Homo sapiens: one gene and its partners. The protein of the gene in region 1 purifies or fractionates together with the protein of each later gene. This does not show direct contact. Each region holds a gene or a part of one and is shown in the gene's direction. Other genes may lie near its edges.

Region 1 (3,694 bases):
ACCGTCACCATGCTGCCTCTCCCCCAGGGCCCGGATGAACGCTGCCCAGTGTCTCGCCCATCCCTGGCTCAACAACCTGGCGGAGAAAGCCAAACGCTGTAACCGACGCCTTAAGTCCCAGATCTTGCTTAAGAAATACCTCATGAAGAGGCGCTGGAAGGTACCGCTGGATTCAGGGTGGGGAGGGAGGGCTTGCTAGTGGGAAGAGCTCCTGGTGCCAGATCCCAGCCTCCACCGTCCCTGCCTTGGCAGGTTCTGTTGACCAGGCTGGGCCCTGTCCGGAAGACAGGGTTGACTTTTCTGTTTTTGCCCTGGGCTGGCTCCTGTCCTAGAGTGGAGACCTCTACCCGGCCTTCCACCCAGCCCCACCCATCTGGGGCTCTGGCTTCCCTCCTTCATTTTTCAAATATTTCTTGAGCATCTACTACTTCTAGGCATTGGGATATAGGAGTGGACAAAAGAGACAAAGATCTCAGTCTTTGTGGAGTTACTTTTGGTGAGAGATGGGGCATTTTCTATCTTTTTTTCTTTCTTTCAATACAGTCTTGCTCTGTCACCCAGGCTGGGGTACAATGGCGTGATCTCGGCCCACTGCAACCTCTGCCTCCCAGGTTCAAGCAATTCTCCTGCCTCAGCCTTCCAAGTAGCTGGGATTACAGGCACCCACCATCACACCTGGCTAATTTTTGTATTTTTAGTGGAGACGGGGTTTCACCATGTTGGCCAGGCTGGTCTTGAACTCCTGACCTCGTGATCCACCTGCCTCCGCCTCCCAAAGTGCTGGGATTACAGGCGTGAGCCACTGTGCCTGGCTGAGGTGGGGCATTTTCTAGAGCCCTGTGGAAATAGGCAGGGTTAAAGAAGACTTTAGAAAAAAAATAAGGGCCTTCTGCCGGGGAGAGGTTGCACTTTTATTTTTATTTTTTTTAGAGACAGGGTCTCACTCTGCCTCCCCAGCTGGAGTGCAGTGGCGCTATCATGGCTCACTGTAGTCTTGACCTTCTGGGCTCAAGTGATCCTCTCCTTTGGCCTCCTGAATAGCTGGGACCACAGACATATGCCACCACATCCAGTTAATATTTTAAAAATATTTTTGTGGAGATGAGGTCTCGCCATGTTGCTCAGGCAAGCAATCCTCCCGCCTTGGCCTCTCGAAGTGTTGGGATTACAGGTGTGAGCCACTGTGCCCAGCCTGCACTTCTAAATAGGGGGGGTCAGGAAGGGCTCACTGAGAAGCATGTGAACAAAGACCTGAAGGTGGGGAGGGGTGAGCCGTGCCAATACTGGGAGAAGAGTATTCCGGGCAGAGGGAGTAGCCAGTGCAAAGGCCCTGAGGCAGAGGTGTGGTTGGAGAGTTTGAGGAACAGGTAGGAGGCCAGTATGGATGGAGTGGAGTGAGCAAGGAGGTAAGGAATGAAGTTAGAGAGGAAGAGGGGGACAGGAGTTGGAGGGACTCATCGGCCATGGCAAGGGGTTTATCTTTTACTTGGAGCAAAACTGGAGCCATGGGAGTGTTTGGAGCAGAGCGGTCCTTGGTTCAGGTCTGGCTGACCTATCCGTTGAGTGAGGGGACTCCTGGACAATACAGTGTCATGGCGCCTCCCGTGGCCATTTTGGGCACTGCACCTTCTCTAGCCTGTGACCCTCCTGGACTGAAGGGGACTTACAGGCTGCTCAGACACCCTGCAGCTGCCCCCCTGCCCTGGTGTTGACTGGGACTCCCTCTCTTCTGCCCTCTAGAAAAACTTCATTGCTGTCAGCGCTGCCAACCGCTTCAAGAAGATCAGCAGCTCGGGGGCACTGATGGCTCTGGGGGTCTGAGCCCTGGGCGCAGCTGAAGCCTGGACGCAGCCACACAGTGGCCGGGGCTGAAGCCACACAGCCCAGAAGGCCAGAAAAGGCAGCCAGATCCCCAGGGCAGCCTCGTTAGGACAAGGCTGTGCCAGGCTGGGAGGCTCGGGGCTCCCCACGCCCCCATGCAGTGACCGCTTCCCCGATGTGAGCCGCCTCGGAGTGTGGCCTGGATCCATCCTGCTAGCACCTCCCCAGACAGGGCTCCAGCCTGTCGGCCACACCCCAGACTCCAGGCCCCCGTTGAAGCCGCTCCCGGTTCCCTCCCCAGCTCCTCGTCTTTGAACTGCCGCCGCCGTGGTGACCCCTGCTTTGCCCCACTGGGAGAGTCCTTAGCCTGGGCCTCCTCCTAGCTGGAGTGCCATGGCTGGGGGGTCTCAGCATGTAGGGCTTCTGTGGTTGTGGATGGGAGGCTCCTGGTGGGGCAGAAAGGCTGCAACGCTGATTCCTAAGGCCCAGCTGCCAGGGAAGACAGAGCAGGCTTTGTGAGAGAGGACCTCCATGCCCCCGCCACCTCCCCACTCCAGCAGATAAGGCCGAGCCCACACCATCTGGCCCAGGCTGGCCCCCACCCACCTTCCTTGCGACCACCAACACACAGGAACTCTGTGTGAGAGAGAGGGCGCCCAGCCCAGGCCTGGTGGAGGGGGAGGGGAGAAGCCAAGGGACACAGGAGACCACCCCCGAGCTTGCCTCAGGGCCAAGCCGGCCCAACCCAACCACTCGGGGCCCCCATCTTGGGGGTCACCCATGGCCTCAGATGATGGGGTCAGCAGGCCCAGGAGAATTAGGAAGGCCATGGGGCAGCCTCCAGTCTGCTCTCAGCTTGTGCCTTGTAAATAAATGTACAGGTTGGATGTGGCCTCCTTCCCTCTGTGTGTGCCTGCACTGGTGTGAGGTCGCTGATGACCACAGTTCACTGAGCACCTACTGTGTACCGGACACTTTAGCAATATCCGTCAGCTCACAGTTTGGTGGTTCATGCAGGCTCAGGTGCCAGTCTGCCCAGCACATGATGTGGGCAGGTGGCTTCTGCACGTTGTGCCTCAGTATCCTCACCTGTGAGAGGGAGGTCGCAGCAACAGCCTACACCGGGTGTGTGATTACTGCGTGCCCAGCTTTACTTAAAGCGCCTGTGCTGTGTTAACTCATTTACTCCTCACAGCAAAGTTACGAGGCAGGATTGATTGGTTGATTGATTGATTTATGATGGAGTCTCACTCTGTCGTCCAGGCTGGAGTACAGTGGTGTGATCTATGCTCACTGCACGCAACCTCCGCCTCCCGGCTTCAGGTGATTCTCATGAGGCAGGTATTATTATTCCTGTTTTACAGAGGGAGAAACTGAGCCAGAGAGAGTGGGCAGCGCTAGGATCTACCTCATAGGGTGGGGCCATGGCTGCAGCATCAGTCAGACTGAGGTAAGGCACTTAGGGCTGTGCTCGGCCCAGGGAACGATAATGTTCTTATCCTTACTCCACATATGAAGAAACTGAGGCTCAGAGGAGAGAAGGAACTTGAATGCCACTCAACAAGTCAGGGACTGGGGCTTGAAAGGAGCTTTTCTGTCTCCCAGAGCAAGGATGTGCCCATGCGTTCCCTCTGCCTCTCACCAGGACAGGGTGTAAGCAGAGAGTCCGGTCTCCAGGTGGAGGCCAGGTCTGGCAGGCCTGCGATGCCTTTGCTGGGTCTACAATGAGGGCCTCAGGGGAGAGGACTGTTCTCTGATTTTTCCCAGTGGCCACGGCCACCTCACCACAAGCCAGCAGTGAGGGGCAGGGGAGGCTCCATCTGGGGGCAGCCCAGAGGGCAAGAGAGCTGAGCCCTGATACAGTGCAGCCTTT
Region 2 (4,279 bases), on another chromosome or scaffold:
GTGAGGATTAGGCAGAGTTTATGACATAATAGCTTTAGACTGGTAAGTACAGCTAGATGAGGGCTGTGAAGTGAGTGTTAATGAGCAAACTAGTCTTGATAAGTAGGCTATTTTTGTTGGCATATAGTCTTCTGAAAGTGACTATTTCCTAGAACAAATAGCTAGGTTATTTTGCCTGGCTGCAGCATTTTTTAGCACAGGAAAAGGAAAGCGTGTTGGTTTTAGTTCTCAGGAGTAACATGGGAAGGTCTCTCTGGCAATAGTGAGGAGGGCAGACAAGGGAAAGATGGGTGGCAGGGGATCCAGTTAAGCAGCCAGTGTATAAAGTAGGAAAGAACAGATAAAGTCATGAGCAAGGAAACACTGCTATATTTGCATGCATCCATAGGGTCAAAAAACTTGAGAATCATTTTATTGATTATTTTAGTTAATGATTCATAGATAATTCAGATAGATCATAAAATGGTAATCTTTAAAATGTAGCACAAAAAGGTTTTCCAGTTTAAAATAATAACATGCGTTTGCTGAGGATTCACTCTCAGACACTTTGCTGAGCACTTTATGTGAATTTGATCAATTAATCCTCAAAAGTTTATGATAGGTTAGTTTTCTTCATTTCCATTCTGAAAATAACAAAACAAGGGCGTGGAGAAGTCAAATGATTTCCCCCACAGTCATATAGAGAGTGATAGAGCTGGATTTGAGCCCAGGACATCTGTGTTCAAAAGTGCTTTTAACTTCTATGCTACTGTGCCTTTTATAAAAATAAATCAGCTAACATAAAGTCTAAAGATATTTGCCTTTGTATCTTTAGCTAGTCTGGAGGCTTGGGTGTTGTTTTCCTGTAAGCTTAAGACAGAGGTCAGCAAACTTTAACTGTGAAGGGCCAAGTGGTAAATATTTTAAGCTTTGCTAGCCATATGGTCTCTATTGAAACTACTCATCTCACTGATGAGTAATTTGTCACTGACATAAGTAAACAGATAGGCCCGTGTACCAATAAAACTTTATTTACAAAAAGGGGCTGCCAGTTGTATTTGGCCAACAGGCCATAGTCTGCTGTATCTTCTTTGCATTTCTCTCAGTTTGAATTTATAATTACAGAATATCTACTTCATTAAGGACGATTAGCCTAAAAATATCCATCAACTTTAGGAAATTTCTAATATGGCTGCCATGCATTGAGGAAGATACAGAAAACAGATGATATCTTTCATGTCCTTATGCACATAATTTTGTTGGATATACCTTACACAAACAGACATATGTTGCTATGGCCTGAATGTTTGTGTCTCCTGCAAAATTCATATTTTGAAACCAAATTCCCAATGCAATACTATGAAAATGTGGATTCTTTAGGAGGTAATTAGGTCATGGGGGCAGGGCCCTCATGAATGGGATTATTGCCCTTATAAAAGAGGCCTGAGGGAGCTTGTTCATACCTTCTACCATGTAAGGAAGCAGCTAGAAGTTACCATCTATGAAGCAGACAGCGAGCCCTCACCAGACATGGAATCTATTGGTGGCTTAATCTTGGATTTCTCAGCCTCTCAAACTATAAGAAATAAATTTCTGTTGTTTATAAGCTACCAATTTATGGGATTTTGTTATAGCAGCCTGGCTAGGCTAAGACATATGCACATGGCAACCTTTCTGTAATAAGGAAAGGTGGAGACAGGAAAAACTATGGGATTCAAAGGAAAGGAAAATAACTCAGAGCTTACACTAACCCTAATCAGAGAAGACTTCCTGAAGGATATGAACTCAAGCATGTCTATGAAGTTGGTCAAAGCATTTATAGTGAAAGGAGAGCAGAAATGGTATTCTAGGTGAAGAGGACTTTTTTTGTAAAGGCACCAATGTGGGAGCTTATACAAAGGACCATCTGGCTGAAGCTAAGCATTTGGGTGCAGGAACTGTTAGAGATCAAAGCAGAAAAGTAGATTGAGATGAAATTATAAAGGCTCTTCTATGCTAGCTCCAAGAATTTGGACTTTTAATATTGACAAATGGTTCTTAATCAGGAGTAATTTTGCCTCCCATCCCAACTCTCTGTAGCCATTTGGCCATTTCTGGAGGGATTTTTGGTTGTCACAAGTCTGGGTGGCACACTACTGGCATCTACTGGGTAGAGGCCAGGGCTGCTCTTAAGGATTTTACAGTATACAGGCCAGCAACCCCCCGCCCACCCCCCAACAAAGAAGTACCTAATCCTTAATGCTAAATGTGGGACACTCTGTAGTAGTAAGCCATCAGTGAATCTGCAAGTAGGATCAGTGAATCTGCAAGTAGGGGAATGGAGTCATCAAAATGGTCAAGACTGATGCAGTAGCACTGTGTGGATAACTCCAAATGTAGAAAATGGATGTAAGGAGTCTCTTCATTGGCTTGTTTTTCCCAGAAACATTTGAGGGTCTGCTATGTACAAAGCATGGAACCAGGCATGGTAGGGTAGAAAGATGAGTAAGGGACAGTTGAAGTCTCTGGAAGCTTTTAATCTAGTGTGCTGGGGTGGCTGCAGAGGTGGTGGTGGCTAGTAGGAGACTTGTAATCAGAACCCTTTGCTCCCCCTGCCTCTCTCTAGCTCTCACTCATCTTGTGGCCACCGTGCAGATTCTGGACTCCTCCAGACTCAGGGCTTTCTCCAGCTCTTTTCCTCCCATCTAGCTTCTGGGCTTCTAGTCTCTCTTACCTTTTCGCCTTGCTCTGCCTTCTTGGCTCTACGTATTCTCCTACATAATAGTTTCTTTCTTTCCTGTACAAACCTGTAAGACTGTTCCTACTCCCAAATATTTACCCATTTCTCCCCATTTTCTTGATCAGCATAACCAGAACCTCAGGAGTTCATCAGGCACTCGAAAATTTTCCCTGGGGTAATGAAGTGAATAGATGGAGGAAAAGCTGTGAATACTTTTGCACTGGTAATTTTAATTTACTGCTATCAATTTTAATCCTTTTCACAAGTATTCACAGATTGGTAATATAAAACCAAATATGATAATGAAATATAATCAAGGATTCTTTTTTTCTTTTAAAATTTGATTTACTTATGGATTTGCTTTGAATTGCCATAAATTGCAGGAGGGCCTGCACAAGGAGGGTGCTGTTGAGACCAGAAAAGAGGCCACCGGTATCTGTGTGGGTGCTACAATCTCCAGACCATCACAATTGGTTAGCAGGTGGGTAGCAAGGAAAGGGAGACTTTGGAGATAGTGCTGTGGTCTGGAGGAATTCAGAACATGAACTATGTGAGCAGAGCCGTGCTGAGCTGGAGAAAGCACTGTCTCTCCTGTGCTGGGAAGAGACAGTGGCCCTGGGCTAGGAATGTGTCTGTGGAGCACAGATGGTTGCCAGTCCCCTCTTCAGATACGTGGAGCCTAGAGTGCTGAGTCTGGGCTGAAGTGCAGTACTTGTCCTCAGGTGTTATTGTGTGAGGCTGAGGGGAAAAGCTAGAAACCATGTCTCCAGCAAAATCCATCTATTGATCACCCATCTGAAGGGCTGGGCTGAGAGGGGGACCTCAAAGAAGGAAGAGCAGGACTGCAGGCAAGACAGCCAAATGGCAGGGTAGGGGGTGCTTTAGATGGGGTGGGTAGGTGGAGATTAGGGGCACAGTCCCAGTCTCTGGGTCCTCATAGACCTAGCTCTTAGGCACATGATGTAGTGTGGTAAGTTGAGGCCTGTGGAGGTGCAGAGTCAGGGGAGTGGCTTTACACCAGGAGAAAGGGACTTTTTCTCAGCCCTTGGCTGACACTTCTCTATCACTAATGCCACTTCTGAGCATCTAGGAACGAGGGAGAGAAGTGAAGTTTCTTGGTCCCTACACACATACCTTACAATAACACACCTTCCTAGGTTTGAGGGAGAGAGCACGTCTCATTGGTAATCATTATTTAGTCATTATTCTTTTCAAGTGGGGCAGGTGCAATAGTATTTTGCAAGGATTTTTGAGAGCAAAGTCATTTTTTGCTATAGCTGTATTAAAAAGGTGAATTTCTAAATGGGTTATTTGGGGCTGATTTGCAAATATATTAAAGCCTTGGCAACTTGTGGAAGTTATGAAATTTATGAAAAGAGTCACAACACTTTTTCTTTCCCTTGAAGGATACTCATAATCCCTTAAAAGCCACAAATGATTCAAATTACTGACTGCTGTAAAAATTAAGTCCACCTACCACAAAATGAAAACTCACATTTACAGTTCTACTAAATTATTTTCTATTTTTCTCTCTCTTTTTTTTAGACAAAATGCTGACTACTGTAGAAAAAAAGGTCATGA
Region 3 (4,279 bases), on another chromosome or scaffold:
TTATTATGTATCTTTGTGGTTATAACCATTCTAATAGGTGTGAAGTGACCTCTCGTTATAATTCTCATTTGCATTTCCTGGTGACTAATGATATTAGCATCTTTACATGTGCGTATTGGCCACTCACGTATGTTCTTTGGAGAAATGTGTATTCGTATCCTCTGTTCATCTCTCCAATTGGGTTGTCTTTTTTATTAATGATTTGTAAGGGTTCTTTATATATTCTTGATACCAGGTCCCTTTTCAGATATGATTTACAAAAATTTTCTCACATTCTATGGGTTTTTTCACTTTCTTCTTCTTCTTCTTTTTTTTTTTTTTTTTTTTTTTTTTGAGACAGACTCTGACTCTGTCGCCAAGGCTGGAGTGCAGTGGTGTAATCTTGGCTCACTGCAACCTTCACCTCCCAGGTTCAACCCATTTCTCCTGCCTCAGCCTCTTGAGTAGCTGGGATTACAGGTGTGTACCACCATGCCTGGCTAACTTTTGTATTTTTAGTGGAGACGGGGTTTCACCATGTTTGTCAGGCTGGTCTCAAACTCCTGACCTCAGGTGATCTACCCGCCTCGGCCTCCCAAAGTGCTGGGATTATAGGTATGAGCCACCATGCCCGGCCACTTTCTTTATAATAATGTCTTTTAACGACAAAAGTTTTGAAGTTTTGTTGCTTGTGCTTACTCTTTTTTCTTAAATAAATAAATAGGATACTTTTGGGAGAGCTTTGTTATGTGGTGTGGAGAGTGGGCATAAAACATCTAGCTTTTATCATTATTTGAGTAAGAGGAAGTATTTTACAGTCTTTGAATATAATAATGAGTACTATGAAATGATGTAATGAAAAGTGCTGTGTGTACCCTGTGGTGACATATGCCTGTGACTAAAGACAAGGAGAAGAAAACTCAACAATGAAAGCTGATTGAGTTATCAGATTATAGGTGATTTAATTTTTTTCTCAACATTTTTTAGCTATTTTATGTCACCTTATAAGTGGGCATAGCAATGAAAAGAATTACTGAGGTGGTGGATTTGTTTTATTTTCCAAACTGGAAATGTTCTCAGTTCATTTCCTTATGCACCGTACTTCTAAAAGCAGCTCCGTTAGTTGACCATTTAACTTTGTTCCAGCTTCACTAAAACTGCCTAAAGCCTTTATGCTAAAGGCTTTACTTACATCCTTTTTCCAGTCCTTATTTTTTAAGTTCACATCACAGTCCTGTGAGGTGTATAGAATAATCCCCTCTTGAAGATGAGGCGAAAAGAGATTCAGCTCCTTGCCCAAAGATACTAAGTAGATGAGCCAGGACGTGAGCCCAGGCCTGGGTGGCCCCAAGCTCAGCCACCGTGCCACCCTGCCTCCTTTGGACAGGTGCCTGCTATGCTGGAAGTTCAGAGATGAGCAAGGCTGTCCTGGGGGAAGCAGGGGTCTGGTGTTTCAGCAGGTGGAGGAAAGCAGCTCTCTGTCCCCTCCTAGACAGTGGATTTGGGACCTTGTGCCTGATTCCTTTTGCCTTTGTTTCTAGCTATGAGGGCACTGGCCGGTCACTGTCCCTCAAGCTAATTCAGCAGCTCCGTCAACAGAGCGCCCAGAGCCAGGTCAGCACCACTGCTGAGAATAAGACCACGACGACAGCCAGATTGGCATCAGGTACCCCAGAACCTGACCCGGGTCCCGCGGTTCACAGCAAGGCCCTTCAGTCTTACTGATCCTCGCTTCCCCTGTGACATCATGGGAAGCACCAAACCTTCCCACCATCAGGCTGAGAGGTTGAGTCCCCAAGAGGAGAAGTAGCTTTTTTCGGAGGAACAGCAGTCCAGTGACCAGATGGGAGCCAGACTAGGGCCTTCTGATGGTGGGGCCCTTGTGTGTCCTTGTCTCAGGGCATGGTTGCATTGAGATCCCTTTGGGGTTGGTATCGTGGCAAGTTGAATATCCACCAAAAACAATTTTAAACCACCCAGTTTAAATTCTTACCACACGTCTCTGGCCACCATGGGACAAATATAAAGTGAAACATTTTTCCTTGCTTTTTTAGACAATACATATTTAATCATTGTTTCTTCTTTTGTGTGTGTGATTGTGGGGAGCAGCGCGGACACTGTATGAGGTTTCCCTCCAGGAGTCAATCCGATACGCCCCTGGGGATGCAGTGGAGAAGTGGCTGAATGACTTGCTGTGCCTGGATTGCCTCAACATCACTCGGATAGTCTCAGGCTGCCCCTTGCCTGAAGCTTGTGAACTGTATCCTCCTCTGGGTTTCACTGGCCCTGTGAAAAGGAGAGGGGCGGTGAAAGAATTCAAAGGACTTGAGTCCTTTGTTTCATAGGATGCTGCTCTAGAGAAAGGGGAAAGTTGAACATTTTCAATTTCCTTTTTCTCTTCCTTTTTTTTTTTTCTTTCTTTTTTTTTTTTTTGAGATGGAGTCTCGCTCTGTCACCAGGCTAGAGTGCAGTGGCACAATCTCAGCTCACTGCAACCTCTGCCTCCCGGGTTCAAGTGATTCTCCTGCCTCAGCCTCTTGAGTAGCTGGGATTACAGGTGCCAGCCACCACGTCTGGCTAATTTTTGTATTTTTAGTAGAGACAGGGTTTCACCATGTTGGTCAGGCTGGTCTCAAACTCCTGACCTTGTGATCTGCCTGCCTCAGCCTCCCAAAGTGCTGGGATTACCGGTGTGAGCCAACGCGCCTGGCCCTCTTCTTCCTTCTTTTATGTGTTTCTGCTTAGGACACTGAGCTCCTGTTCCCAGCTACGGAAATTTGTTCTGCCTCCAGAGAGTAGTATGACCTGTCTTCGGCTATTTGTTTTGTTTTGGTTTCTTAACTCCAGACCCAGGTACTATGTTAATAGAGATACCCTCTTTTGCTACCACAAGGCCTCTGAAGTTTTCCTCCAACGGCTTATGGCCCTCTACGTGGCTTCTCACTACAAGGTAACTGCAGCTAGCCCTTGTGTGAATGGTAGCAGGGAGCTTCAGCATTTGGCAGTCCCCTTTTACTTGATTTGCATATTTTATTACCCAATGGCTTAGGTGACTGTTCCATTGGGACATTGATGAGTTCCACTGATCTTGCTGTGTGTAGGTATAGAGCATGTAGCTCCATGCAGTAACGGGACAGGGTGGAAAGCTGTGTCCATTTTTAAAGGAGTGCTTTCATTTCTTGCCTGCCTACTAAACTGATAGGATGAGGTGACATTGCAGTTGTGGCCCGGTGGTGCAGTTTGACCTGAGACCAGCTTTATAGCTCTGGGCTACTTTTATGGAACAGTGAATTTGAGGGTTTAGAATATCTGAGACTCTTAAAAACAAAAGGGTTGGTTAAAAAGGATACTTTTTGAATGTCTAGATAGTATTTTTATGAACAGCTTTTAATGGAAGGCTTGAAGAGTTGGTGTTAGAAGTGGTGACAGTTTTTCCTGAAATAGCAGCCTCTTATCTGTAAAAAGTTCACTTCCTAGCTGTGAAATAAGTAGTGCTAAATAAATTCTCTTCTTCTGTCCAGCCTCAGTGCTCGGGGTGAGAGGACAGTAGGCATTTGAGGCTAAGTTCCACTTAACCTGTTATGAAGAGTCTCAGGCTTGCCAAAATACTAGAAAGGTGCTTTGCTGGACTTCTGCTCCTCACTTGGCTTTGGAGAAGGCCATACTGCAGTCATCCTGTGGTTCTGAATCGAACCTTTTGCGTAAAGGGCAAGAGGAAGAGTGCTTCTCACTGACCCGTGTTTGGCTTCCACAGAACTCTCCCAATGATCTCCAGATGCTCTCCGATGCACCTGCTCACCATCTCTTCTGCCTTCTGCCTCCCGTGCCCCCCACCCAGAATGCCCTTCCAGAAGTGCTTGCTGTTATCCAGGTATAGGAGCAGAGGCGTCCTTGTGGCAGTGATTTGGGGAACCACTGAGGCATCAGGAATTAGTGGCTTAATAACTGCATTGTGGGAGTTTTGAAACTGTGGAGTCCTGGTCTGGAACCAAGGGGCTGGGTCTGCTGAGACAGGTGACTAGGGTGCACTGGAAGAGGTTAGCGCCACTAGACACCCAAAGCTCCACTGTTGACGGACGGGGAAAAGCCAGAACCGACCGCTCTCTTATTTTGACTCACAGCTTCTTCCACAAACAGACTTGTTTGTTTTCTCCCTTTATTACAAAAGCAATACATGGTGCATTTTGAATTAGAGGCTACAGATTGGGGAACAAATTTTTAATGCCTAGCATGGATGTATTTATGCATTTCTATATCACTTTTCCTTTTCATATACATAGTAATCTGCTTTTATTTTTAG
Region 4 (3,659 bases), on another chromosome or scaffold:
GGAAGACACAACCCCTACCTCTAAAGCACAAGCACTTGAGAACACAACCCCATAGCAACTGCCCTATGTAAGCCATTGAGGGACATGTCTTCTGGGCCGACGCATGGTCTGCATGAATGGTGCTCCCCGAAGGAGGCTACTTCCCGCTCTCCTTCTCTGCCCTTTTCATTGTAAGTCATCTTTCCTCAAGAGCATTTTCATGTACTCTTCTCAGCCCCTCCCACCTTCTACCTATGTGGAGTTTACAGTGTCTGGCACTGACTGTGTTGCTAAAGAGGCCACAGAGGCAGCCAAGTGTAACCTGCTGGCAGAAAAGGTGAGTGGGCCGGGACCTTGGGGTGTTACCACTCGGACAGAGCTGTTTGTGGAACAGAACATCCTTGGATAGTTTGTATCTTGGGGCTGCAGACAGAGAATAACAGTGCAAATCCCCTCTCCCTGTGGATCACGGCAAGCCTTCTTTTAGGGTGTCACCTCATCCCTTTAAGAGCTGTCATCAAATCATCTCACCCACTGGAAGCACATGAAGTTAGGAGAAAGAGAGAGGCTATTTGCTAATGAAGCCAAGTCACGCCCACCCACTGGGAATGTGAAGTGCACATTTTCTAGACATATAACTCTGATACAAAAGCTTTCAAGTCCTTGAGCCAATAATGTACACTTCTAGGATTTTAGTCTAAAGAAGTCATCAGTGGCCAGGCATGATGGCTCATGCCTGTAATTCCAGCACTTTGGGAGGCCAAGACGGGTGGATCGGGAGGTCAGGAGATCGAGACCATCCTGGCTAACATGGTGAAACCCCGTCTCTACTAAAAATACAAAAAAATTAGCCAGGCTTGGTGGTGAGCGCCTGTAGTCCCAGCTACTCGGGAGGCTGAGGCAGGAGAATGGTGTGAACCCAGGAGGCAGATGTTGCAGTAAACTAAGATCGTGCCACTGCACTCCAGCCTGGGCAACAGAACGAGACTCTGTCTCAAGAAAAAAAGAAAAAGAAAAAGAATTCATCAGTGACATTTGACAGAATATATCTATAAAAATGATTTATTATGGATATAAAGAGACCAAAAAAGAGAGATCTGTATGTCCAACAGGAAGGTGTCATTGAATAATCCATGCACATCAGTAAATAGAAAATTGTGCAGACACTAAAAATTGTGTTTTCAAGGAATAATGAATGATATGAGAAAATGCTATTATGGCAAGTGAAAACACACAGGATACAACATCGTATAGTCACAATGATCTCAATTTTTAAATCATATTTAATAGTATTTTAAAATAAGAAAGAAATGCATCAATGTTAACAGTCCTTCTTTCTAGGCCACCACCAGAAAGGGATTATGGGTAATCTCTCTCACTCTCAAAGTATTTCTGTATTTCCATGTTATATATAGAATCATATACCTCCCACAAGCAGAAACTATAACTTTAAGAAAAATGGTTTTTCAAACTAATTTAAGGTTGGCGCGTCAATGAAATTGGGGGGGATCCATTTTTGAAATTAGTTAAAATAAATCCTCTTTCTCTGTGGGCAGCAATATGGCTTTTGTAAGGCAACACTCAGTGAGAAGCTTGGTGGGGCAGAGGTTGCAGTGACCTGCATGGTGTTCCAAACACAGGTAACAGCTCCGTGAATATTCTTGCCTACACCTTCAGAATACAATGACCCCTTCACATTTATGCAGTGCAGTAGTGATGACAGGACATTTGCTCTCCTGTGCTTCTGAATCTCACAGTATGAAATAACACTGGGGTATGCGGAATCATCAACAAATGGAAGGATATTTTAGCTATGCCTTTCCCTCCCACGAACTAGTGACTACAGGGAAGAACCATCTTACTGTGTAGTTGACAAAGCCACCTTTTTATTTGTGGGAGGTGGGAGTGGTTTTCTGAGTTGCAGAGACCAGGTGGCCAGATCTACCTGTTAGCTCCCAGTGGCTGCAGCTTCAGATGACAAAGAGGGTGGCACTGCTGGGCAAGGGTGAGCCATAGGTGGGGTGCTTTTACTCATTGGACATATGCGTGTAAGTCCACCATCACAAAGACAATCCTAGTGAGGCCGGGGCCAACATAGGCCAGTCACCCCTCCTTGTAACCTTGATGACAATCCCTTGTACTTGGGTAGGTCCTTTCTTGCTAGACTCTTTGCAAATAAAAATGTATAATGTGAGGAAATTGGGTGCCAGTGCCACCTGGGCCTGTGGGTTGTCTTGCCTGGGAGGAGGAAGCAAACTAACTGAAGGAAATGGTCCTTTTTCCAGCCCGTGAGCTCACAGCCCCAACCAGAAGGTGCCAATGAAGCAGTCCCCACACCCGTGGTGGACCCAGATGCACCTCCGTCCCCTCCACTTGGCGCACCTGGACTCCCTCCAGCTGGCTCACCCCCAGACTCCCATGTGTTACTGGCAGCTCCTCCAGGACACCAGTTGCACCGGGCGCACTACGACCTGCGCCACACCTTCATGGGTGTGGTCTCATTGGGGTCACCCTCAGGAGAAGTGTCGCACCCCCGGAAAACACGCACAGTGGTGCAGCCTAGTGTTGGTGCTGCTGCTGGGCCAGTGGTTCCTCCATGTCCGGGGAGGATCAGACACTTCAAGGTCTAGGCTAGACATGGCAGAGATGAGGAGGTTTGGCACAGAAAACATAGCCACCATTTTGTCCAAGCCTGGGCATGGGTGGGGGGCCTTGTCTGCTGGCCACGCAAGTGTCACATGCGATCTACATTAATATCAAGTCTTGACTCCCTACTTCCCGTCATTCCTCACAGGACAGAAGCAGAGTGGGTGGTGGTTATGTTTGACAGAAGGCATTAGGTTGACAACTTGTCATGATTTTGACGGTAAGCCACCATGATTGTGTTCTCTGCCTCTGGTTGACCTTACAAAAACCATTGGAACTGTGACTTTGAAAGGTGCTCTTGCTAAGCTTATATGTGCCTGTTAATGAAAGTGCCTGAAAGACCTTCCTTAATAAAGAAGGTTCTAAGCTGAATGTGGTCATGCTTATTGCGACTTCATCCCAGCTCCCCTCACATGCATAGCCTTTTACCCCAACAAACACAGTGTCCCTAATCAAAATCAAAGTGAAAAGAGAACCAAAAGAGAACAAAAACCTGCTGTATTGCCAGATACAGGAAAAAGTGAGACTAGGATCTTTCCACAACCCATAAGATGTGACCATTTCTTTTTTTTTTTTTTTCTGAGACGGAGTCTTACTCTGTCACCCAGGCTGGAGCGCAGTGGCATGATCTTGGCTCACTGCAAGCTCCACCTCCCAAATTCAAATGATTCCCCTGCCTCAGCCCCCTGAGTAGCTGGGACTACAGGTGCGTGCCACCACACCCAGCTAATTTTTTTTATTTTAGTGGAGACAGGGTTTCACCATGTTGGCCAGGATGGTCTTGATCTCCTCAACTCATGATCCACCCACCTCGGCCTCCCAAAGTGCTGGGATTACAGGCGTGAGCCACCGCACCTGGCCAAGATATGACCATTTCTTTATGAGAAAATAATTCTTCTCATTTTATAAGAGAGAGAAAATATTGCTAAAGGTGGGCCAAGCTCCTGAACTTTGTACAGAATAAACTATCCATTGATTTTCTCCAGTACCGAGGTAAGGAGGGATTGGTAATTAAAACAAGATCCTCACTTTAT
Region 5 (4,279 bases), on another chromosome or scaffold:
TAGCATTGCCTTTCTAGTTGGGCAGCTGGGGTGCATAGGCCTGGTTCTCAGACAAGGGGATTTGAAGTTTCAGACGTGTCATATTCCAAAATGCTGTGTTAACAAGTAAGGCCTCCTATAGATCTACTTCAAGTTTGGCCAGGTTTCCTTTACCACCTTGTTTTTCAGATAGGACTGAGGCTTTCAGTGCATACTGGCAACCTTGGAAGGCAGGAATGTGAAACTTTTCCCTACTACTTAGCATCAGAATTGAATGGGAGACCGCATTCTGCCATTTCTGGCGGCAGTGTGGCTCTGCCAGCTGGCCTTCTGCACGGTAATTCAGAGGCAGCACCTTGGTTTGGTGGTTGTGTTAATCAAAGCATATGTGTTTGGTGGGTCTCTGCTAAAAATGCCCATTTTGTTTTTTTTCTGTTTCTACATCAGGATCCCCTAACAACAGTGAGAGAGCAATGCGAGCAGTTGGAGAAATGTGTAAAGGCCCGGGAGCGGCTAGAGCTCTGTGATGAGCGTGTATCCTCTCGATCACATACAGAAGAGGATTGCACGGAGGAGCTCTTTGACTTCTTGCATGCGAGGGACCATTGCGTAAGTCAGTGGGAAGTCAGGAAGGGGAAAGGTTGCAATGGTCAGGGAAGACTTGGTGCCAACAATCTTTCCATGCTAGGGAAAGGCCCATCAGTTACTCTGGGCCCAATATATGTGACATATGGTGCGCTGAGCATTTTATGTAAATAACCTATTCTATTTTATTGAGAGGGTCTCACTATGTTGTCCAGGCTGAAGTACAGCGGCATGATCGTAGCTCAGTGCCAACCTTGAACTCCTGGGCCTAAGTGATCCTGCCTTGGCCTCCCAAGTAGCTGGGACTACAAGTGCATGCCACCATGAGAGGCTAATTTTTTATTTTTTAATTTTTTCTAGTGACGGGGCCTTGTTATGTTGCCCAGGCTGGTCTCAAACTCCTGGGCTCAAGCAATCCTTCCTTCCATCTCGGCCCTCTGAAGTGCTGGGATTATAGGCATGAGCCATTGTGCCTGGCCTATAAATAATCTTGCCTAGGGCGCGGTGGCTCATGCCTGTAATCCCAGCACTTTGGGAGGCCGAGGCGGGTGGATCATGAGGTCAGGAGATCGAGACCATCCTGGCTAACAAGGTGAAACCCCGTCTCTACTAAAAATACAAAAAATTAGCTGGGCGCGGTGGCGGGCGCCTGTAGTCCCAGCTACTCGGGAGGCTGAGGCAGGAGAATGGCGTGAACCCGGGGAAGCGGAGCTTGCAGTGAGCCGAGATTGCGCCACTGCAGTCCGCAGTCTGGCCTGGGCGACAGAGCGAGACTCCATCTCAAAAAAAAAAAAAAATAATAATAATAATAATCTTGCCTAATCCTTACTACTTCCACTGGAGATAGGTATCATTATCCCATTTCACAGATAGAAACTGAGGCTCAGAGAAAAAAACATAAACATCCCAACATGCACCACTAAACAGTGGGGAAGCTGGATTTTGTACTTTTCAATAACAGACTGTTCTTTAAAAATAATTTGTATTGGCCGGGCGCGGTGGCTCACGCCTGTAATCCCAGCACTTTGGGAGGCGGAGGCGGAGGCGGAGGCGGAGGCGGGCGGATCACGAGGTCAGGAGATTGAGACCATCTTGGCTAACACAGCGAAACCCGTCCCTACTAAAGTACAAAAAATTAGCCGGGCGTGGTGGCGGGCGCCTGTAGCCCCCAGCTACTCGGGAGCCTGAGGCAGGAGAATGGCGTCAACCCAGGAGGCGGAGCTTGCAGTGAGCCAAGGTTGCGCCAAAAAAAAAATAATTTGTATCCTCAAATGTGTCTAATATATAGTAGTTGGTCCAAAAGGTTGCTTTTTTTTTTGAGACGGAGTCTTGGTCTGTCGCCCAGGCTGGAGTGCAGTGGCGCGATCTCGGCTCACTGCAAGCTCCACCTCCCGGCTTCACGCCATTCTCTTGCCTCTGCCTCCCGAGTAGCTGGGACCGCAGGCGCCCGCCACCATTCCCGGCTAATGGTTTTTTTGTTTTTTTTTGTTTGTTTGTTTTTGTTTTTTTGTATTTTTAGTAGAGACGGGGTTTCACTGTGTTAGCCAAGATGGTCTCAGTCTCCTGACCCCTGTGATCCACCTGCCTCAGCCTTCCAAAGTTCTGGGATTACAGGTGTGAACCACTGCACCCAGCCTTTTTTTTTTTTTTTGAGATAAGGTCTTGCTTGCTCTGTCACCCAGGCTGGAGTGCAGTGGCACAATTATGGCACACTACAGCCTCTACCTCCTGGTTCAAACAATCCTTCTGCCTTAGCCTCTGAGTAGCCAGGACTATAGGCACATGCCACCATGCCTTGGTAATTTTTTTTTTTTTTAATTTGAGACTGAGTTGCACTCTGTCACCCAGGCTGGAGTGCAGTGGCGCAATCTTGGCTCACTGCAACCTCCACCTCCTGGGTTCAAGCGATTTTCCTGCTTCAGCCTCCCAAGTAACTGGGATTAAAGGTGCACGCCACCACACCCAGCTAATTTTTTGTTTGTTTGTATTTTTAGTAGAGACGGGGTTTCACCATGTTGGCCAGGCTGGTCTTGAACTCCTGACCTCCAGTGATCCACCTGCCTCAGCCTTCCAAAGTGCTGAGATTACAGGCGTGAGCCACCGCACCTGGCCCATACCTGGGTAATTTTTGTATTTTTTGTAGAGATGGGATTTTGCCGTGTTGCCCAGGCTGGTCTAGAACTCCTGGGTTCACACATGCCACTCATCTCAGCTTCCCAGAGTGTTGGGATTACAGGTGTGAGATACCATGCCTGGCCTCAAGGGGTTGTTTTTTAAAAGTAAACTCAGGCAGGGCATAGTGGCTGACGCTTATGATCCTAGCACTTTTGGAAGACCAAGGCAGGAGGACCCCTTGACCCCAGGAGTTTAAGACCAGCCTGGGCAAGATAGGGGAACCCTGTCTCTACTTTTAAAAAATCAAAATTAAAAAAATAAAAATAAACTTCTGCTTGACTCTTACATATAACACAGTAAGGTATTTTACATAAATTATACATAAGCAAAGTTTGATGTGGTTGCTTCTATTAAAACTAATTGGATGGCCAGTAAACGTATGAAAAGATGTTCAACATCATTAGCCACCAGGGATACTACCATGAGATAACACTTTATACCAACTGCCCACTAGGATGGCTATAATAAAGAAGATAACGAGTGTTGACGACAATGTGGAAAAGTTGGAAACCTCATACGCTGTCAGTAAAAGTGTAAATTGGTACAGCCACTGTGGAAAACATCTGGCAGTTCCTCAAAAGGCTAAATATACAGTTAATATATGACACAGCAATTACACTCGAAGATATATACCCAAGAGAAATGAAAACATATGTTCACATAAAAACTTGTACACAAATGTTCATAGAAGCATTATTTATACTACCCAAAAAGTGGAAACAACATAAGTGTCCATCAGCTAGGCTGGGCACTGTGGCTCATGCTTGTAATCGCAGAACTTTGCGAGGTCAAGGCAGGCAGATCACCTGAGCCCAGGAATTTGAGACCAGCCTGGGCAACATGGTAAAACCCTGTCTTTACAAAAAATATATATATAAAAGCCGGGCGCGGTGGCTCACGCCTGTAATCCCAGCCCTTTGGGAGGCGGAGGCGGGTGGATCATGAGGTCAGGAGATCGAGACCAGCCTGGCCAATATGGTGAAACCCCATCTCTACTAAAAATACAAAAAAATTAGCCGGGCGTGGTGGCGGGCGCCTGTAGTCCCAGCTACTTGGGAGGCTGAGGCTGGAGAATGGCGTGAACCCGGGAGGCGGAGCTTGCAGTGAGCTGAGATTGTGCCACTGCACTCCAGCCTGGGCGACAGAGCGAGACTTCATCTCAAAAAAATATAGACAGATAGATAGATAGATAGATAGATAGATAGATAGATAGATAGATATAGATAACCAGGCAAGCTGGCTCACACCTGTAGTCCTAGCTACTTGGGAGGCTGAGGTGGGAGGATCACCTGAGCCTGGGGAAGTCAAGGCTTCAGTGAGCCATGATCACGCCACTGCACTCCAGCCTGGGTGACAGACTGAGACCCTGTCTCAAAAAAAAAAAAACAAGTTCTTTTCTCAAAAATTAAACATAGAATTATGTACTATATGATCTAGCAATTTCACTTCTAGGTATATACCCAGAAGTATTGAGAGTAGGCTTAAACAGATATTTCCACATTCATATTCACAATAGCCAAAAGGTAGAAACAACCCAATT
Region 6 (4,279 bases), on another chromosome or scaffold:
TACTTCTCCAGACTGTGTGTGTATGTACAATGTTTAAAAGTAAACTTAGGCCTGGGTTACAGAGCAAGACCCTGTGTCTAGAAAAACAAAAAGTTAAATAAAAGTCAATGAGCTGGGCATGGTGGCACACACCTGTAGTCCCAGCTACTAGGGAGGCCAAGGTAGGAGGATTGCTTAAGCCCAAGAGGTCAAGGCTGCGGTGAGCCATGAGTGTGCTTCTACACTCCAGCTTGGGCACAGAGTGAGAGGGGGAAAAAAGTAAATATATAGGTATGTGCACACACCTGTATGCATATTTTTTTCATTAAAAAAACCCGTGATCTTGCTATACAAAATCTCACTGTTTTTTAACAGGCTAATAATCTTCTGTATGAATAAATACACAATTTAGCCCATCAGTCTTTTTATTACTAGACGTTTGGAGATTTTTATTTCCAATTATCACTCGGTACTTCCAACATTCAGTGTTTGCACGAACCAGAGATAAATACCTTTGTGTGGTCAAAGTAATATAATTTTTGATAACTTAGTGAAAGGAGAATTCTAGACTCCAAGGATATGGCCCTTTATTTTCACATAGCTAGTTTACAAATAGCTGTCCCGGCCAAGTTCAGTGGCTCACGCCTGTAATCCTAGCACTTTGGGAGGCTGAGGTGGGCGGATCAAAAGATCAGCCTGGCCAACATGGCAAAACCCCACGTCTACTAAAAATACAGAAATTTGCCAGGTGTGGTGGTGGGCGCCTGTAATCCAAGCTACTCAGGTGGCTAAGGCAAGAAGATAGCTTGAACCTGGGAGACTGAGGTTGCATTGAGCCAAGATAGTGCCACTGCACTCCAGCCTTGGCGACAGAGTGAGGCTGTCTCAAAAACAAAAACAAAAACAAAAAGCTGTCCCAGGTTGTACCCTACCAACAATGGGTGACGGTGCCTATTTCACTAAACTCAACATCAAACTTACCTTGTTTGCCTGTTACCTTGTTGCCTGTTATATAGAAGAAAAGTATTTCATTGTATTTATCTGCATTTTTCTGCAGGTGAGATTTTCGTTTGCATTTCTTCACAGATTATACTCTTCTGATAATTGGACATTTGTGTCGTCTGAATGGCCTTTTCATGCCCTTTGCCGATTTCTGTGCTGGGTTGTTTGTCTTATTGAGTTATAAAGACTCATATAAAATGTTTCTATTGTTTTAATCTGTCATTCAATTTAATCTGATTCGACTTGTGGTATTTTGATCACTAGGCTTCTAGATTTTATGTTACGCTTTAAAAGGACTTCTTTGCTTTTAAATTATTAAAAATATGACTGTAAGGCCAGGTGCGGTGGCACACGTCCGTAATCCCACGATGCAGGTGGATCACCTGAGGTCAGGAGTTCAACACCAGCCTGGCCAACATGGTGAAACCCTGTCTCTACTAAAAATACAAAAATTATCTGGGTGTGGTGGCAAGCGCCTGTAATCCTAGCTACTTGAGAGGCTGAGGCAGGAAAATCGCTTGAACCCGGGAAGCAGAGGTTGCAGTGAGCCGAGATCACGCCACTGCACTCCAGCCTGGGCGACGAGTGAAGCTTCGTCTCAAAAAAAAAAAAAACTATATGTATAACTCTGTTATATATAGAAAGAATAATATTTATGGTTTTATTTTTACATTTTACATTTGGAGGTTTAATTAATTTAGAATGTATTTTGCATGTGGTGTGAGGTAGGTAGGGATGAAAACATGAAACATTTAGGCTGGGCGTGGTGGCTCATGCCTGTAATCCCAGCACTTTGGGAGGCTGAGGCGGGCAGATCACCTGAGGTCAGGAGTTCGAGACCAGCCTGGCCAACATGGTGAAACCCCGTCTACTAAAAATACAAAAATTAGCTGGGCATGGTGGCGGATGCCTGTAATCCCAGCTACTCGGGAGACTGAGGCAGGAGAATCACTTGAGCCTGGGAGGCGGAGGTTGCAGTGAGCTGAGATCATGCTGCTGCACTCCAGCCTGGGCAACAGTGCAAGACTGTGTCTCAAAAAAAAAGAAAAGAAACATTTGTCATCAGAAAGATCACTTCTGCCCCTCCCAGTGCGTCTCCCCTCCCAGCCCCTGCAAAAATAAAAGTCGCTGTTGTGATTACTTCACCAGATATTAGTTTTACCCATTCTAGAACTTCATGTAAAATGGAGCCATGCAATACTAGCTCTTTTGTGTCTCATTTGTTGTTTTGTTTTGCTTCTTGTAATCAGTTTTATTCTAGAAATTTACAGTACATTTTGATATCTGATAGGGCAGGTCGGTAAGTTTTCTTGAATTATTTTCAACTACTTTATCAGTGGGTTTTATCAAGATTTTAACTGAAAATAGAGGGACTGCTGTAATGTGTGAATTCAAAATGCTTTAAAATTCCAGAAAGCATATCTCATGTAATCTCAGTTCTCCTCCTATTGCTTGGACTTGGAGAAAATGACATCCCTTTTAAACAGCACTTGGCCAAAACAGAATTGTCACTTTAACATTTTTTTTAAAAACTGCTTATACAGCAAAAGTCACATTCCACATGACGTGACTCTCACCATCTTAGCAGACTCTCAAAATAATTATCAGGGGCTGTGCGAGATGGCTCTCGTCTGTAAGCCCAACAGTTTGGGACACCGACGCGGAAGGATGACTTGAGCCCAGGAGTTGGAGAGCAGCCTGGGTGACATAGTGAGACCCCATCTCTCCAAAAAATTAGAAAAATTAGTCAGATGTGATGGCGTGCATCTGTAGTCCCAGCTACTCAGGAGACTGAGGTGGGAGGATCACGTGAGTCCAGGAATTTGAGGTTGCAGTGAACCATGATTGGGCTGTGATTGCTCTCCAACCTGGTAACAGGGCAAGACTCTGTCTCGAAAAAATAAAATAATTACCAGGAAACTAAATTTATTTGTAGTGTCATCACAAAGTACAAATTAATAGGATGTTTTATGGTGTTTGAGAATGTTTTGTAACTGGAGATGCAAAGTTGGCCTGTTTGCTTGGTTAAGTATTACCCAATCCTTTGCTGCTGGCTTGTTTTGTTCAGTTTTTGTTCATTTTGGCAATTTCATACTTAAGTTGCAAGAATAATGCAAGGAATTCCCATATACCCTTTACCCAGAGTCCCCAAATATTGCCATCTGACTACATTTGCCTTGTCCTTTTCTCTCCTTGTATGTATGTTTTTACTAGACCGCATGGTAAGTTGCAAGGCGCATATGCCCCTTTGCCCTACGTACTGCAGTAAAGTAAGGATATTACCTAACTGTAGATGTCCAGATCAGGAAATTAACATTGATACAATACTGCCACCTCGTCTTAGTCCTCATTTAGATTCAGTAGTTTGTTCCAATAATATTCTCTATAACTCAGACAAAAAATGTCCAGAGTCATGCATTGCATCAGGTTGTCATGTTTCCTTAGTTTTCTTTAATCTTGAACACTTACACTTATTTTGTAGTTTATTTTTCTATTTGAATTGTTTTGGGTTCTCCCCGCCCCATAATAAGGATCAAGTTATACGCTTGTCAGAAATACACCAGACATGTTGTATTCCTGTTTTTTGTTTTGTTTTGGTTTGAAACCGGGTCTTGCCCTGTTACCCAGGCCAGAGTGCAATGGTGCAATTGTAGGTCACTGCAACCCTGAATTGCTGTGCTCAAGCGATCCTCCCACCTTGGCCTCCCAAAGAGTTGGGATTACAGACATGAGCCACCACGCCCAGCCTATATTGTCATCAGAGTATACTATCCAGAGGCACATGCTGTCAGTTTGAGCCATTATTGGCCATGTTAGCTGACTTCAAATGCTATTGGCCAGGTTTCTCCACTGGAAAGTTACTGTCTTCCTTTTCACAGTTACATTTGTGGGGAAGATACTCTGAGACTTTGTAAATATCCTGCTCATCGTCCATTAGTTTTAGCAACCACCAGTTCCTGTCTATTCATTTATTCTGGTAGTTGCCAAATGGTGATTTTTTAATTTTGTTATTGTTTGTTTATTACTTGGTTTACTGACATAAGGAATAGCTTGCCCTTTGCCCTCATTTATCTGTGTGAACTTAGATTATTTTATTCCATAGGTTGAAAGCCTTTATGCTTATTTACTACAATGTGCAAAACGTTCCATTGGGAACCCTGTCAGACAGGCTCCCCTGTCATTTCCACATGTTCATGCCATTCTTGGGATACTTTTTTACCTTCTGGAATGGCAGGGTACGTGAGTCTCATCTTATGCTTTTCCTGCCCTTTCCCCGGAATCAGCCATTTCTTCCAGG
Region 7 (4,279 bases), on another chromosome or scaffold:
ACCAGAGTAGTTGTGGTGTAACATTCAAGGTCGTGGCAGAACAGACGAAAGAATGGTATAGGGAGGGCCCCTCAGCCCGTAGCAGTTATCAAGGAAACCATGGTTTTCCTCGCTCTTTTCCTTCATTTCTTCCTTCCTTTGCTGATATTTTTAAGTGCCTTCTGTAAGCCAAGGGCTATGCCAGGCATGGGGATTCAGCAATGTACCAAACACTCTGGTCCCCATCTTCTTGGAGCTCATAGTCTGAACAGGGACACAAAAGGGAGGTGATAAATTGGAATGCAATGACCTTAAACCTTGCTTTACTAATTTTTGTGTCTGTCTGCTGTTTAAAGTTAACATTTGAATGAAACACTTTTTTACTAAAGTATTAGAAATAGGAGTGCAGGTAAAGGCTAATCAGAGGTAAGGAGTGGAGTCTGGGCACGGTGGCTCACACCTGTAATCCCTGCACTTTGGGAGGCTGAGGCGGGTGGATCATGAGTTCAGGAGATCAAGACCATCCTTTCTAACACGGTGAAACCCCGTCTCTACTAAAAATACAAAAAATTAGCCGAGCGTGATGGCAGGTGCCTGTAGTCCCAGCTACTCGGGAGGCTGAGGGAGGCAGGAGAATGGCGTGAACCCGGGGGGGCAGAGGTTGCAGTGAGCATAGTTCATGGCACTGCACTCCAGCCTGGGCGACAGAGCGAGACTCCGTCTCAAAAAAAAAAAAAAAAAAGAATGGAGTCCGTTTTTCTGTAGTGCTACAGGGACAGATAAAAGAATATCAGAATATCACGGGGGTAGGGGGTGAGGTGGGGAAGCCAGCGTTGTTCTTTTTCTTTTTTTTTTTCTTGAGACGGAGTTTTGCTCTTGTTGCCTAGGCTGGAGTGCAATGGCACGATCTTGGCTCACCGCAACCTCCGCCTTATGAGTTCAAATGATTCTCCTTCCTCAGCCTCCCGAGTAGCTGGGATTACAGGCACATGCCACCATGCCTGGCTAATTTTTGTGTTTTTAGTAGAGATGGGGTTTCTCCATGTTGGTCAGGCTGGTCTTGAACCCCTGACCTCAGGTGATCTGCCCGCCTCAGCCTCCCAAAGTGCTGGGATTACAGGCATGAGCCACCGCGCCCAGCTGCCAGCGTTGTTCTTAGAGCCCAGAGATGGGAGGAAAATTAACCAGAGGCAGGTATTTGAAGGCAGTGGGACAGGAAGAGGCTTGTTCTGGACTTCCAAATGGCTTCCTTTAAAAAGAGGCATTTAAATTTTTCCAGTTGCTTTTTATAGTTGATCTAGGATAGAAAAATTATGGCCATCATGGTTTCCTTTCATATTGTTAAAAATGATCAAGGGGACTTTAAGATTTTATGAGAAAGGCAAATTACCATTGTTTTATTCCTCAGTGAACCTGGAGGAGCCAGACCTTTATCAGTCGTGTTGTGTTCCAAATATAACAGCTATATTCTCAATACAAAAGACTCTGATGAGAGCAACATGGGAGCAAAAAAGAGAATGTCCTACTTTCATTTTTTAAATATGTTTCAGAGGACTCATTAACAGGAAGTATATTTAAAATGCAAAAGGTCAACTTTGTACTTTGTTCTACTGGTCTCTGGGAGCTGGGAAAAGGCTTCTCTGCCTCTTTGGGGCCTTACAGTAAGGGTAGATAATATGCTAGCATCAGAGGATAAGATTCAGAGGAAAGCCTCTTTAGCCTGGAGATACGTGGTAGAGGCATTTTTAATTTCCTGTCTACTTTATATGGGATATTGGCCTTATCTGAAATAGTTTGATCAATACAGAAAAGTGCCACCTTGCAGTTTCACTCTCTTGCCCTTATATCATTTTTTTTATAAGCCTATTATTTTTTCCTCCTAGGACATTGAGGGTCTTCTGTGAAAATTCGTGATGTTGTTAGGCTATGTTGCAGGTAGCCACTGCCACTGGGAGTACTTGTAAGCAGATGTGTGTGGTGCAGTGGCTAAATACTGAGGCATAGCTGAGCATGATTTGCGTGTTCGTCATCTCTAATACGTTAATAGTGCCAAATGATCATTTTTTTCTCTAGTTGCCTGACCTGGTACCCCAGCTGGGGACACTCTACCAGTTAATGGAAAGCAGAGTCAAAACTTTTCAGAAACTTTCACACCTTCATGGAAAGCTTATTCTTCTAATTACACAAGTGAGTAAATCATATTGTTCTGGGCTAAAACTTTTGGACATGGTAGGAATGGAGAGAGGAATAAGGATCATTTTGAGACAGGGTCTTGCTCTGTCGCTCAGGCTGCACTGCGGTAGCATGATCATAGCTCACTGCAGCCTCGCTCAAGTGCCTCCCAAGTAGCTGGGACTACACGGATGCACCACCATGCCTGGCTAATTTTTAAATTTTCGTAGAGATGGCATTGCCTAGGCTGGTTTTGAACTCCTAGGCTCAAGGGATCCTACCACCTTGACCTCCCAAAGTGCTGGAATTACAGGCGTGACCCACCACGCCTGGCTGAGAGCTCCCTGTTTCAGTAAGAAATTGGTAAATCAGGATCTAGTCTTTAACTTGGAAAGCTTATCAGTTTGACAGTAAGAAAGTTTAGTTGTGTCTGTTTCAACTTTTACTCAAATCTTTTTCTCACCATTGTGTTTCAGTTGTTATACAGTTAGTAAGTTATAGGATATTTATACAGTTAAAATTTTGGCACAGAAAGATATTCTAATCACCTCAGAGTTTTTCAGCTTTACAGAGTAATTCTTTCCCTCTTGTATTTGAAGGACTTTTTTGCTCTGTATTGTATGAAGGTCCTCCATTATGGTGGTGGAGGGTGAGTTAGCAGCAAGCAGTGGGGAAGGTTGGGTATGCTGGTGGTCGTGATACTTGGGATATGTTTACACTCTACTTCAGAACAGTACTTTATCTTCTTCCAGGTAACAGCATCAGAGAAGACAAAGGGAGCAACTTCCCCTGGACAGAAGGCAAAGTTGGTGTATGAAGAAGGTAAAGACTGGGGGAATGGGATGGAGTCTAGAATTATAACATTCAGTTTTCAGTGACTGAGTTCTGTTATCTTTTTGAAAACGTCAACATAAGATCTTCCTTTGGCAAGCCTTCTCTAATTAAAATAGGCAAGTCCGTGGCAAAAATCTGTAATTCATCAGATAAGAAAAGAAAAGGCACAAGTATAATACAGTGACAAAAAAGGGCATTAGTTATGGAAGATTTTTTTTTTCTTTTCTTTTTTTTTTTTTTTAAGACAGTCTCAGTCTGTTGCCTAGGTTGTAGTGCAGTGCTGTGATCACAGCTTGCTGCAGCCTCAACCTCCTGGGCTCAATGCAATCTTCCTGTCTCAGCCTCCTGAGTAGCTGGGACTACAGGCGTGCACCACCATGCCCGGCCAACTTTGGTATTTTTTTGTAAAGACAGAGTTTCACTATGTTGCCCAGGATGGTCTCAAACTCCTGGGCTCAAGTGATCCCAATGTGCTTGGATTACAGGTGTGAGCCACCATGCCTGGCCAGGTATGGAAAATATTTAAATAGAAGAACATTATATGAACAAACTTAGTGTAAATACATTTAAAAGTCTAGGTGGTATAGTTAATTTTTAAGGAAACATTAATGACCAAAATTGACTTTAAAAGAAATAAAAAGTTTGAAAAAGCCAGTAGCTCTAAAATTGACTTTATAAAACTTCTCACAAGATATGCCCAGATATTTTGAAGGTTATTTGATCAGGCCTTCAAAGAACAAATCTTTTCTTTTCTTTTTTGCACAGACTCTCTCTGTTGCTCAGGCTGGAGTGCAGTGGCTCGAGGTCAATCATAGCTCACTGCAGCCTCAAACTCTTACACTCAAGCGATCATCCTGCTTCAGCCTCTAGAGTAGCTGGGACTGTTGAGCCACCATGCCTGGCCAATTTTCTTTTTTTAAAGGTAGAGATGAGGTCTCTTTGTTGCCCAAGCTGATCTTGTACACCGTGGCCTCAAAAACGGTCTTCTCGCGTCAGCTTCCCAAAGTGCTGGGAATAGAAGCATGACCCACAACACTGGGCTGTCCTTTTTGTCATGTACTGGCAATTTAGTCATTTTATGAGCCAAGTATAATCTTGATAACAAAACCTGGAAATGTCAAAAAGGGAACATTTTAGATCATCCTCAAATACCCTGAGTAGCAAATTGATTATAGAAGTGTAGGGTTACAGAGTTAATGTGCAATAATAGACAGCTAGACCAATAGATTGGCAATAGCTACCCCTGAAAAACCCGTAGTTCTGTGGACTCTTGGTGTGTTTATTGATGGTGTGT

The links.
Region 2: the proteins of MYLK2 (region 1) and HTR7 purify together in Homo sapiens (tandem affinity purification; one large-scale study listed by IntAct). This does not show direct contact.
Region 3: the proteins of MYLK2 (region 1) and NAT10 purify together in Homo sapiens (affinity purification with mass spectrometry; one large-scale study listed by BioGRID and IntAct). This does not show direct contact.
Region 4: the proteins of MYLK2 (region 1) and AHSG purify together in Homo sapiens (affinity purification with mass spectrometry; one large-scale study listed by BioGRID and IntAct). This does not show direct contact.
Region 5: the proteins of MYLK2 (region 1) and UQCRH purify together in Homo sapiens (affinity purification with mass spectrometry; one large-scale study listed by BioGRID and IntAct). This does not show direct contact.
Region 6: the proteins of MYLK2 (region 1) and SAFB purify together in Homo sapiens (affinity purification with mass spectrometry; one large-scale study listed by BioGRID and IntAct). This does not show direct contact.
Region 7: the proteins of MYLK2 (region 1) and WDR43 purify together in Homo sapiens (affinity purification with mass spectrometry; one large-scale study listed by BioGRID and IntAct). This does not show direct contact.

The regions. Positions count from the first base shown.
Region 1 is NC_000020.11:31,831,977-31,835,670, forward strand, and holds the end of MYLK2 (myosin light chain kinase 2, skeletal/cardiac muscle), read left to right. Parts: intron 1-27; coding exon 28-160; intron 161-1,740; coding exon 1,741-1,821; 3' UTR 1,822-2,708; downstream 2,709-3,694. UniProt on the Homo sapiens protein: Implicated in the level of global muscle contraction and cardiac function. Phosphorylates a specific serine in the N-terminus of a myosin light chain.
Region 2 is NC_000010.11:90,742,493-90,746,771, reverse strand, and holds part of HTR7 (5-hydroxytryptamine receptor 7), read left to right. Parts: intron 1-3,081; coding exon 3,082-3,179; intron 3,180-4,243; coding exon 4,244-4,279. UniProt on the Homo sapiens protein: G-protein coupled receptor for 5-hydroxytryptamine (serotonin), a biogenic hormone that functions as a neurotransmitter, a hormone and a mitogen.
Region 3 is NC_000011.10:34,129,293-34,133,571, forward strand, and holds part of NAT10 (RNA cytidine acetyltransferase), read left to right. Parts: intron 1-1,520; coding exon 1,521-1,645; intron 1,646-2,088; coding exon 2,089-2,239; intron 2,240-2,832; coding exon 2,833-2,929; intron 2,930-3,733; coding exon 3,734-3,850; intron 3,851-4,279. UniProt on the Homo sapiens protein: RNA cytidine acetyltransferase that catalyzes the formation of N(4)-acetylcytidine (ac4C) modification on mRNAs, 18S rRNA and tRNAs.
Region 4 is NC_000003.12:186,618,322-186,621,980, forward strand, and holds the end of AHSG (alpha-2-HS-glycoprotein isoform 2 preproprotein), read left to right. Parts: intron 1-214; coding exon 215-316; intron 317-1,535; coding exon 1,536-1,619; intron 1,620-2,264; coding exon 2,265-2,609; 3' UTR 2,610-2,997; downstream 2,998-3,659. UniProt on the Homo sapiens protein: Promotes endocytosis, possesses opsonic properties and influences the mineral phase of bone. Shows affinity for calcium and barium ions.
Region 5 is NC_000001.11:46,309,729-46,314,007, forward strand, and holds part of UQCRH (cytochrome b-c1 complex subunit 6, mitochondrial isoform 1 precursor), read left to right. Parts: intron 1-168; exon of another isoform or gene 169-253; coding exon of another isoform or gene 254-316; intron 317-426; coding exon 427-588; intron 589-4,279. UniProt on the Homo sapiens protein: Component of the ubiquinol-cytochrome c oxidoreductase, a multisubunit transmembrane complex that is part of the mitochondrial electron transport chain which drives oxidative phosphorylation.
Region 6 is NC_000019.10:5,629,174-5,633,452, forward strand, and holds part of SAFB (scaffold attachment factor B1), read left to right. Parts: intron 1-4,279. UniProt on the Homo sapiens protein: Binds to scaffold/matrix attachment region (S/MAR) DNA and forms a molecular assembly point to allow the formation of a 'transcriptosomal' complex (consisting of SR proteins and RNA polymerase II) coupling transcription and RNA processing.
Region 7 is NC_000002.12:28,939,409-28,943,687, forward strand, and holds part of WDR43 (WD repeat-containing protein 43), read left to right. Parts: intron 1-2,052; coding exon 2,053-2,166; intron 2,167-2,903; coding exon 2,904-2,973; intron 2,974-4,279. UniProt on the Homo sapiens protein: Ribosome biogenesis factor that coordinates hyperactive transcription and ribogenesis. Part of the small subunit (SSU) processome, first precursor of the small eukaryotic ribosomal subunit.